Regions from separate parts of the Homo sapiens genome. Here region 2 is linked to region 1. The links come from fine-mapping of genetic effects on gene expression. A gene starts in region 1. The other region holds a variant in brackets. All regions are shown on one strand. Distances are between the middles of the regions. Region 1 holds the start of LMO2 (LIM domain only 2). Region 2 overlaps LMO2 (LIM domain only 2).

The links. PIP is the estimated chance that this variant, and not a neighbour inherited with it, causes the effect.
Region 2: its variant is fine-mapped to the expression of LMO2 in whole blood (TOPMed, PIP above 0.99).

What each region holds. Positions count from the first base shown.
Region 1 is chr11:33,889,713-33,895,087 of GRCh38, reverse strand. It overlaps LMO2 (LIM domain only 2), which reads left to right and starts at 3,012. Exons shown (of 6, transcript NM_005574.4): 1 at 3,012-3,293. It overlaps LOC105376621 (a long non-coding RNA gene), which reads right to left and starts at 1,142. Exons shown (of 3, transcript XR_931176.3): 1 at 1,053-1,142. RefSeq lists enhancers at 900-1,069, 3,447-3,556.
Region 2 is chr11:33,857,766-33,863,140 of GRCh38, reverse strand. It overlaps LMO2 (LIM domain only 2), which reads left to right. Exons shown (of 6, transcript NM_005574.4): 6 at 3,566-4,565. The coding sequence ends at 3,785. Among named protein-coding and RNA genes, the nearest start is that of LMO2, 32 kb to the left of the region's middle. RefSeq lists a silencer at 4,989-5,162. The variant A/C (reference allele first, on the strand shown) is at 2,218.

The DNA of each region.
Region 1 (5,375 bases):
ACATCACATAATGTCAGCTGGACTTTTCTGTGATATTAACACTGGGATCCTGTAAAACACTATATTCTGACCATAGTCTGACACTCTGCATAATGAACAATTAGCCGGGAAAACATAGTATTTGAACCTCCTTTGCAGAGAGGAAATTCTCACAACTCCAAAGCAATAGTCAGCCCACAGTCAATGCCATCTCATCACCCAGCCCAAGGCTCGGCCTAAAACCTTCTAGAGGGTCTCACTCTAAAGATAACCCAAAGGTCTCACAGCTTCCTGGTTGCAAAAACGACAACAGGAGCAGGAATTGAGACCTAAAGATCATTTGGGTAGAAATGAGGAAAGAAATGACATGTTAAATGATGATTTTTCCCTAACTTGCCTTGTTCTTTCTAGATGTGGCTCAAGAACTTGCAGAGTTATGGTGGGATAATTCGACTGATCAAATGCTGAAAGTTTTCCTATCGACTTCAAGGCTGTTCAAATCTCTATGTACTTTGAAGTCTGAGGCACAAGATAATTTCCCAGAGATTCATGTTTCTATCGATGCTAGGCTGGGCTGACACAGATAACCCCTCAAGAGGCCTTTCCGAACTGCTGTATAAACTGTCCTGGGTCCAGCAATAAAGCAACTGTGTCATTATAGTTCTCTGCCCTTCAGAAGATCTGATCTTAATACCCTTCTCTTCTTTTTGTCCCTCTGATTTCATCAAATTTGTTGCCATTCTGGGTGTTTCTCCTTCTCTCCCCGACTTTTTCTACTTCAGATCAAAGAACTTCCCCTTTTTCCCACTTTTGGATTTGCGCCCTGGAGGACAACGCAAGGTTAACTTCCCTCCCACCTCCTCTTGTAGGCACACAGGGTGCCCCTTAGCCAGCGAAATCTCCGCGCCCGAGATCCTCTCACAATTTCAGGCTGGTGAATTGTAGTAGGAGACATGGTTTAGTTTGATGTGGTTAAGTCAGTCATCATGGCATCTTCGTACCCTCAGCCCCAAACCGCTCTCCTACTCATCACCCTCACTTTCATTTCTTTGGATTATCTTTCATCGGCTTACCACCAGCCTTCACAGCCTCACCCAAGGCTGAAGCAGGGCTAGCAGGGTGGTGCGTTTCCTTCCCTGGTTGAGCTGGTGACTGCTGTGGGTAAGCAGGTCCAATGTGAACTCAATTTTACATTGAGAAAGAGAAAGCAAGAGTGAGTGGGCTGCTAAGACTGTTGCTTCATGGTTTCCCCTAAGCCCCAGAAATAGAAAGGCAGACTTCCGACTGGCAGAGCCCGTATGCTAACCACCAGACCACACTGCCAGATAAGAAAAATGTTCGATTGTGTCATACTTCCCTCATTGGCTCCAGTGTCTGAAAATGGCCCTGAATTTCAGAGAGTCTTACCATGACCCAGGGATTTAGAGAGGATCGAAGAGGGAGGACAAAGGAATCAGGCACCTTCTCTCTCTCTTTTCTGGGGTAAATTTATTTTCAACCACAAAAGTAAAGGAAAGAAAAAGTCACAACAGATGAGTTATGAGCTAACTTTCTGATTTGCACATGTAAGAGAAAGAAATGAACTGGATATCATTAGACATTGAGAAAGGGAGTCTGCAAGCTAGCAATGTATCTTCGGCCTTTTTGATTTACACGTGTTTATTTATGAGTACCTACTGTGTGCCAGGCATGATGCTTGGTGCTGCCAATTCAAAGAGAAATAAGACACCTCCTTGCAAAGTGAGAAGGCAGAACTAGATTCAGATTCACCTAGATTTCAACTCTTGTGCTCAGGCCACCACCACCACCATGGAAACAATTTTGCTTGACTCTCCCGGCGCAGCCGCGGCAGGCGTGTGTGTTGTCAGACACTGCAGGAAGAGTGATGGCCTGGGTGTTGACAGGCTCCTAATTGGAAGGTAGGAGGTGCCACCAGAGATCAGCTATAAAAGATATCTTTGGACTGGGGTGGGCTGCTAATGCTTGGAAGAGACTTGTGGGTGAGGCCCGGTGAGCTGTCACCTCGGAATTGGGCCTTGCCCAGCAGACAGACATGCATGCGGGGGAGGTAGCTGACAGACAGGGGCGCATGGGGAAGCAGCCATTCCAGAGAACTGCAACAGCAGATTGCAAACCAGGACTTCAGGACTCAGAGGGGGACAAGGAAAGGAGAGCCTATAGTGGCCCCAAAGCCCAGGGTCAGAGGCAGGGCCAGGAGAGCAGCTGACAAGAGCTTTATGGTAAGGACAAAAGAGAAGACAGCCGGAGTCTCCTTTTATTCAGCTCATAAAGACCCAACTTCTGTGCACTTATAACTGTTCAGACCCTGAGGGGTTCAAAAAAAGAACCGTGTTAGGAGAATTCAATATTTAATTAAGAGATGATCAGATCCGTGCACCGAAATTATTGCTGGGTAAGACAATACTGTGTGTGTTACATAGCATTGGAACTTAGGAAAGCTCTTTCCTTGTGTTGTTTAATTTAATCCACTCAACAACCCTGCAAAGTGGGTACCATTGTCCCTGTTTTTTATGAATGAGGGGGTGAGGTGCTGAGAAGCTGTGTACGTTATTTGAGTTTGTCTGGCTAGTCAGTGGCTGAGCCAAGTTCCAATCCAGGTCATGTGAGCCTCTGAACTTTCTGATAAAACCTGCAGACCCCCTTAACTGGGATAATATAGTCATGCATTAAGCAAGAAGGAGAAGTAAATACAGGCTGATGGTGTAGGGGAGAAATTCAAAGGGAGAAGGCCTAGGAGGGAGAGGGAGCTATGTGTGAACAGAACCAAAGATGGCCTCTGGGAATTGGAAGGTCTCTTGGAATTCGTCCAAACTGAGGATCACAAGTCTCCACATTCTGAGTAGGAGGATGAGGGTCTGAGTTAGGATTTGGGTCCTGCAGGGCTTGCTAAGGAATCCCCTGATGGCCTAGGATTCCACGCAGAGCACATCTGGTGTGAGAGAGCTCGCTGCAAGGGTGAAGGCTCCGCCCTATCAGATAGACAACCAGGCCACCAAGAGGCCCAGCCCTCCAAACCCTGGATTTGCAACATCCTCAAAGAACAGCAACGGGCCTTGAGCAGAATTGAGAAGGAAATACCCCCACCTGCCCTCAGCCGTTAAGTGGGCTTTGCTATTCACAAGGGCCTCTGGGTGTCCTGGCAGAGAGGGGAGATGGCACAGGCACCAGGTGCTAGGGTGCCAGGGCCTCCCGAGAAGGAACAGGTGCAAAGCAGGCAATTAGCCCAGAAGGTATCCGTGGGGCAGGCAGCCTAGATCTGATGGGGGAAGCCACCAGGATTACATCATCTGCTGGTGAGTAGGCTTCATTAATTCTCTGATGAATGGACGATTGCAAGGGAACTTTTTTCATCTTCAAGGAGCCAGAAGAAGTGGTGATTAAATTGGTCTTTTAAAATAAAAAGACTCCAAAGGGGTACAAGTCTTCAAGCTTCCCCTGTGGTGTTCCGGGCACTCTGGCTTCTCTTTCGGAGGGAGGAAGAGCATCTATTCATAGGCTGTGACTTGGAGAGGCCCCACGGTGAGTCAGGCGCTTGCTGTGTGAGCCGCTGGTTGCTAATGTCTTCGGGAACTGCTAATTTACCCATCTAATTTGTTCCTGTACACTGGCCACAAAGGGAGACCACTCAATTATTCTGATCCAAAAGAGAGGCTTGTGTTTACCATGATCTCCCCAGCAACTGTGTGAGTGTGTGTGCATGTGTGTGTGTGTGTGTGTGTGTGTGTGTGTGTGTGTGTGTGTTTGCCTAACAACCTTAGGCAATGACGAAGAGGTGGGGCTGCTGCCCTTGTTAGCATTTTCAAACACATTCCAGTTCTGAGTTGAGGGCAAAGATTGTAATGGGGTGCTTCAGAGAAGCCTTGGCTCCCAAGGAGGTTATAACTTCAAAGGGTGTTTTTGAAAAACCAAGGCGGATGAGGAAAGTGGCTACAAGTTCCTTCCATCACAGAGGATCAATGAAGGGGAACAAAGATTTGGGAGCATCTACTTTGTGCCAGGTACTGTGCTTGGGTTTTACACGTCTTCTCTTGTTGACTTTGCATAACTCCCCTTTGAAGCAGATATTACTCCAGGTTCTTGCCGTAATGTTTCAGCTTAAAGAAAACCAACCCATACTTCTTTAGGTTGCCCTGAAAAGGTGAATCTTCTGTGAAGCCTTTTCTGTCTTTATCTGTTAAAATTAATTAAGCTCTTGTTTGTGCTCCCAGAAAATCACTTTAGACCTTAGAAAGATGGCAGCCTCAGTTTTCTCATTTGTAATATAGGGGTACCCATAGGGTCATTGTGAGAAATAATAGAAATAAATCATGGAAGTGCTTGGATAGTAGCTGGTACTTAGCCCTCATCAGTCATCATTGTCATTGTTGTTAAGAGTAATAATAATAATAATATCACTTATTATAATTACTCACCTCTAGGTTTTTAAAAAACTTACAGGCCGGGCACATTGGCTAACGCCTGTAATCTTAGCACTTTGGGAGGCCAAGGCAGGCAGATCGCCTGAGGTCAGCAGTTCAAGACCAGCTTGGGCAACATGGTGAAACCCTGTCTCTACTAAAAATATGAAAATTAGCCACGCGTGGTGGCTCATCCCTGTAATCCCAGCTACTCGGGAGGCTGAGAGAGGAGAATTGCTTGAACCCGGGAGGCGGAGGTTGCAGTGAGCCAAGATGGCACTATTGCACTCCAGCCTGGGTGACGAGAAACTCCATCTCATAAAAACAAAAACAAAAACAAAAAAACTTACATAAATTTATGGGGAACAAGTACAATTTTGTGACAAGCGTAAATTGCATAGTCTTGAAGTCAGGGCTTCTAAGGTATCTATCACCAGATTGATATCTATTGGTATCTATCACCAGATTGATATCTATTGATATCTATCACCAGATTGATATCACCACATTGTACCTATTAATTAATTTCTCATCATCCTCCCCCCACCCTTCTGAGTCTCCAGTGTATATTATTCCATACCCTAATGCCATGTGTTCACATTATTTAGCTCCCACTTATGAGTGAACAGTGTGATATTTGTCTTTCAGTGTCTGACTTTTTTAACTTAAGATAACAGCTTCCAGTTCTACCCATGTGGCTGCGAGAGACATGATTTCATTCTTTTTTATGGCTGAATAATATTCCATTGCATATATATACACCACAGTTTTAAATCCAATCATCCATTGATGGACACTTAGGTTGATTCCACATCTTTGCTATTGTGACTAGTGCTACGATAAACATACAAGTGCAGGTATCTAATTATTTCTTTTCCTTTGGATGGATACCCAGTAGTGGGATTGCTGGATTGAATGGTAGTTCTAATTTTAGTTCTCTGACAAATCTCCATACTGTTCTTCCTAGAGATTGTACTA
Region 2 (5,375 bases), 32 kb after region 1:
ATTCCCATCGGACCCTTGACTCCATCCCTGTCAAATCATTTGAATCTTATTAACTGAAGTGCAGATAGAGTAAGGTCAGAAGAGCCCCAGCTTCTCCCTATCTCTACCGTTTTATATAACATTCAGGAATAAAACCAGTGCTGCCTGGGCTTGTTAATCCTTTCCATTTTCAAAAAGGAGAGGAAAAAAAAAACAGTCTGGGAGAACCCAATGTTAATTAACTTGTGTCTTGGTGACATGAAATAATTCTTCTCCCTGCCACATTCCTAGGCAACATGTTAATTAACTCTGCATTAGTGCAGGCATTTCCAGCCATTCTTTAATATTTATATTATTGTTATTAAAATGGGCAGCAGAGAGCTTAAGATGGGACATCTCTTGACAGAGGAGAAAAATTGTCTTTTGCGTCAGGGATGGTCCTTTAGCCAAGGTCTTGTTTACTGGCATTCTTAGTATATCTGGCAGGATCTTTTAACAAGGCAAGTTGGAGGAGTAACTGAACGGGCCCTCTAATGTGTTTGAGTTCTTCACCCCTAGGATAACTTGTCCCCGTGAGGATTTCCAATGGCTGAGTTGCCTGTTACAGTTCTTTTCCGACATTTAGCTTCAAACATTCATGAGACCCCCATGCAGAACCTCAACTCTGCTGCTGTGTTGTATTGTTGGGAACCCAAGAGCAGCTGTTCATGTCTGTGCTGAGCCAGATCTCCTTGGATCCCTTTTCACTAATTCTTGTGTGCTGGGAGTGGTGGGGTGGCGGTGATGGCAGTGGTTTTGCTTTTAACAGCCAGCACCTGAATCTGTTAGAGCCAGAAGTATGCCTGCCCCAACTAGACCCCCAACGGACCTTAACCAGTGACAGACATGGTGGGAGTACCAAGCCCCGCAGCCTTGCCTGGAGCCAGGCATAACTTATATTCCAGGGTCCCTCCCCTCTGAGGGACTTTGCCTGAGGATACAACTTGGCTTGGCTTCCTCCCCTTCCCTCCAGCCTCCCCTGCTGCCTTCCAGGTTTTTCCTGAGAATGCCTCATTCATAAATCACTGGCACATCAATCCTTGCCTCAGGGGCTGCTTCTGGGATATCCAGCCTAAGATACCAATTCTTGGTGCCAGAGGTTAATGCTCAAGTTAGGTGTCAAGTCCCGGCTTATTTTTTACTAATATTAGAATCTCCGAATCCCAGAGCTGGAAGGGGCTACAGAGACCTTCTTTTTCAGTTCCCTTGCTTTATGGCTTAAGTCACAGAAGCCTGTACAGGGGACTCCATTTGCTCAGGTCACCTGGCAAGTTAGAGGTCATGCTGGGACCTGAACTTGTCTCCCACATATTCGTCCTTTGTCCTTCCCTTCATAGCTGCCTGATGTGGGTTGTAATTTACCCCCTGACTTCCCTTTAATAAGCTCCCTCCTTCCTTAAGGATCGCACACCCCAGGCAGTTGGATTCATTCCATGCACACTGTTTTCTCAGTCGTTCATCCTTGCTCAGGCCCAAACTTAACTTACAGAGCAGTCAGGAAACCAGAACTGTCTTTCCACTCTGTGACCTCCAATGTGGCGGTTACCTGCAGCTCCACCATCTGCTACGTTGGGATAAAATGTTCTCCCCCCAGTAATGAGTTTGCTCCCAGGCGGTGCTTTGAAAACACTCAGAGATCTTCAAATGGAAAGCAGGATTCAGAGGCAAATTAGCTGGCCCTGGCCCGAACAATGAGCTCTCCACTCACAGACCACCTCTTGTCAATTCCATTAATCTCGCCCAAATATTGCAAAATGTGTCAACTGCCCTTAGGTCCCCTACAACCTCTCAGAATGTACCCACTGATTCTCTGATATCCTGAAATCAACCAGAACTTCCAATAAGAGCAAGCATTCACCTAAAACTGTCCTAAAGGTTTTATGTAGAAACCACCTGCTAACATGCTATGTTTTCAGCCACGAGTGAAAATTACTTCCTGCAGCAAGACTGGCACAGCTGGGAATACACCCAAGATGTGTTAAAACATAACCAGCGTTGGCTTAGCCCTTGACCATGGGTGCCCTGACATGCTTCGTTTGGTTGTTTTAACAGCTGAGTGAGGTGGAGCCTATGATGGCTGCCATTTCACTGAGGCTCAGAGAATCAGAGGTCTCTCCAGGGTCACTCAGGGCTGGTCCGGGACATTGAAGCTGGGTCTTCTCTGCTTCCGGTACTTGTGTTACTGCACTTTTGCTGTTG[A/C]TTCTCAAATGTCAGCCTGCAACCAGTCCCCCGGAAGTGTTCATTAACGCACAGACTGCTGGGCCTTCTCCCCAGGGTGTCTCAGTTGGGTAGGGAAGGAGGAGGGCTGAGAATTTGTTTTTTTGTTTGTTTGTTTAGTTTTTGCTTTTCTTTTGAGTCAAGGTATGGCTCTGTGGCCCAGGCTGGAGTGCAGTGGCATGATCTCGGCTCACTGCAACCTCCACCTCCCGGGCTAAAGCCATCCTCCCACCTCAGCCTCCCAAGTATTAATAGCTGAGACTAGAGGCATGCACCACCGCACCCGGCTAATTTTTGTATTTTTTGTAAAGACACAGTTTCACCATGTTGCCCAGGGTGGTCTCGAACTTGTGAGCTCAAGTGATTTGCCTGCCTCAGCCTCCCAAAGTGTTGGGATTACAGGTGTGAGCCACTGCGCCCAGCCTGAGAATTTGTATTTCTGTCAGGTTCCCAGGCAGTGCTGATGTCGCTGGTCCCAGGACCAACACTTTGAGAACCACTGCACTGAGCCCTGCCATGTTCTGTCTCCCACCTTGACACTGAATACTGCCTGAAATAAGTGACTGATCAACTGAGGCTTGGGAGAGTCTTGATTTAAATGTCAGAAAAGAAGTTTCCCTTTTGATTCATGCCAGTGGGCAGCGAGGGCCATGAATTAAGATCCTCCCTTCATGGTGGAGAGATGCTGTTGGTCCTCCATATCTCAGAGGCACGATTAGCTGCACCGCGTGTTTTCTGTGGAACTCCCTGTCTCCCAGCAGCTGGGGCCCCAGCGAATAATCAGGGGGAGATGTGCTTTGCAGCTTATGGAGGTATTCAAGGCCAGCTCTCCCCATGGGTAGAATCAGTGGCTGTTGACATGATAGAGTTTGGGAGCCTCAGAAGAATGCCCGTTTTATTGCATTCCTGGTCAGTACCCTCTCAAAGGGGCCCCTAGGGTCTCTCTCCAGCTGCTCTTCTGAAATGAGGGTTCCCCTGGGAGGGGACAGGTAATACTTGCCTAACTCCTTATGATAGATCACATCAGCTGAGAGCCTTGCCCACAGAGGAGGAGCCAGGGGGCAGCCTAGGGGAATGATGAGCGGTTGCTGCAGACAAGGAGAGGGCTCAGAAAAGGGAGGAGTTATGCCAGATCCAAATGCCAGTTTCATCTGAGTTCCCTCTGCCTGCTGGTGAAGACTGCACTAGCCGGCCCTCCTTCTGGAGCCGACCTTCCCTGGCTTCCTGACATCCTGAAAGTTCGGCCTCCTTTCTAGGGCTCATCCCCGAGCCCTGTCTTCCAGGATTGTCCCTTTCACTGTCTTCTTAGCTTTTCTTTCTTTTGCCCCAGGCTTTTTGGGCAAGACGGTCTCTGCGCATCCTGTGACAAGCGGATTCGTGCCTATGAGATGACAATGCGGGTGAAAGACAAAGTGTATCACCTGGAATGTTTCAAATGCGCCGCCTGTCAGAAGCATTTCTGTGTAGGTGACAGATACCTCCTCATCAACTCTGACATAGTGTGCGAACAGGACATCTACGAGTGGACTAAGATCAATGGGATGATATAGGCCCGAGTCCCCGGGCATCTTTGGGGAGGTGTTCACTGAAGACGCCGTCTCCATGGCATCTTCGTCTTCACTCTTAGGCACTTTGGGGGTTTGAGGGTGGGGTAAGGGATTTCTTAGGGGATGGTAGACCTTTATTGGGTATCAAGACATAGCATCCAAGTGGCATAATTCAGGGGCTGACACTTCAAGGTGACAGAAGGACCAGCCCTTGAGGGAGAACTTATGGCCACAGCCCATCCATAGTAACTGACATGATTAGCAGAAGAAAGGAACATTTAGGGGCAAGCAGGCGCTGTGCTATCATGATGGAATTTCATATCTACAGATAGAGAGTTGTTGTGTACAGACTTGTTGTGACTTTGACGCTTGCGAACTAGAGATGTGCAATTGATTTCTTTTCTTCCTGGCTTTTTAACTCCCCTGTTTCAATCACTGTCCTCCACACAAGGGAAGGACAGAAAGGAGAGTGGCCATTCTTTTTTTCTTGGCCCCCTTCCCAAGGCCTTAAGCTTTGGACCCAAGGAAAACTGCATGGAGACGCATTTCGGTTGAGAATGGAAACCACAACTTTTAACCAAACAATTATTTAAAGCAATGCTGATGAATCACTGTTTTTAGACACCTTCATTTTGAGGGGAGGAGTTCCACAGATTGTTTCTATACAAATATAAATCTTAAAAAGTTGTTCAACTATTTTATTATCCTAGATTATATCAAAGTATTTGTCGTGTGTAGAAAAAAAAACAGCTCTGCAGGCTTAATAAAAATGACAGACTGAAATACAGTGTTGTTTATTTGATTACGACTTATAATTTGGGATGGCGGGGAAATGCTCTGCTTTTTCTTTTCTAAAGGAGAAGCAAATAAGCAATTTACTCTTAGGTCAAATAAAAACTTCTGTGTATTGCAAGGGTTTGTATGAGGCAGGCACATTTCTATATTACTGGCAATTATGTAACAGGTCATCATGTAGCTCAGAGGAATGTAGAATAATTAAATTGTTATTGTACAATATGCATTTCACTTCAGCATTGTATGGAGTGAGTGGAAGGCAAGATCATTGCCTTTGGGAAACTTGTAACCTAGAAAGGACACAAATACATAAAGCAGATTCCCTTTGGGAGAGAAGGTAATTACCTAGTTTGAAATGTGGCAAAGATGCTGAGCTTGACACTTCGATTTTCCAAGACGGGTGTCTCAGGGTGTTTTATGACAAGTGGTTAAGAGGACCTTTACTTTGCGGATTTAAAGCAGGCACCTTGGTTTGTGTGTTTGCCTTCCCCGGAGTCAGGCCGCCCCCATGAACTGATGCAGAGCGCCACCTTCTGGCCATCACCTTAAAGCGCGCTAGCCCAGGAGGGTCCCGACGTAGGACAAACCTAGATGAAGAAGAATATGCTTTTCAATGATTTCCTTAGAGTACTCGGAAATGCAAGAAGTCTAAATGTGTTCAGTTATTAAGACACAAGAAACATGCAGCTAAGGCTGCATGTTAACTATAAGATTCCTTTAAATCTTCCTAAGGTTTGTGATCTTTGTTATTTTTAATTTTTTTAAATCCCTGGACAGAGAGACAAATGATTTTTTTTC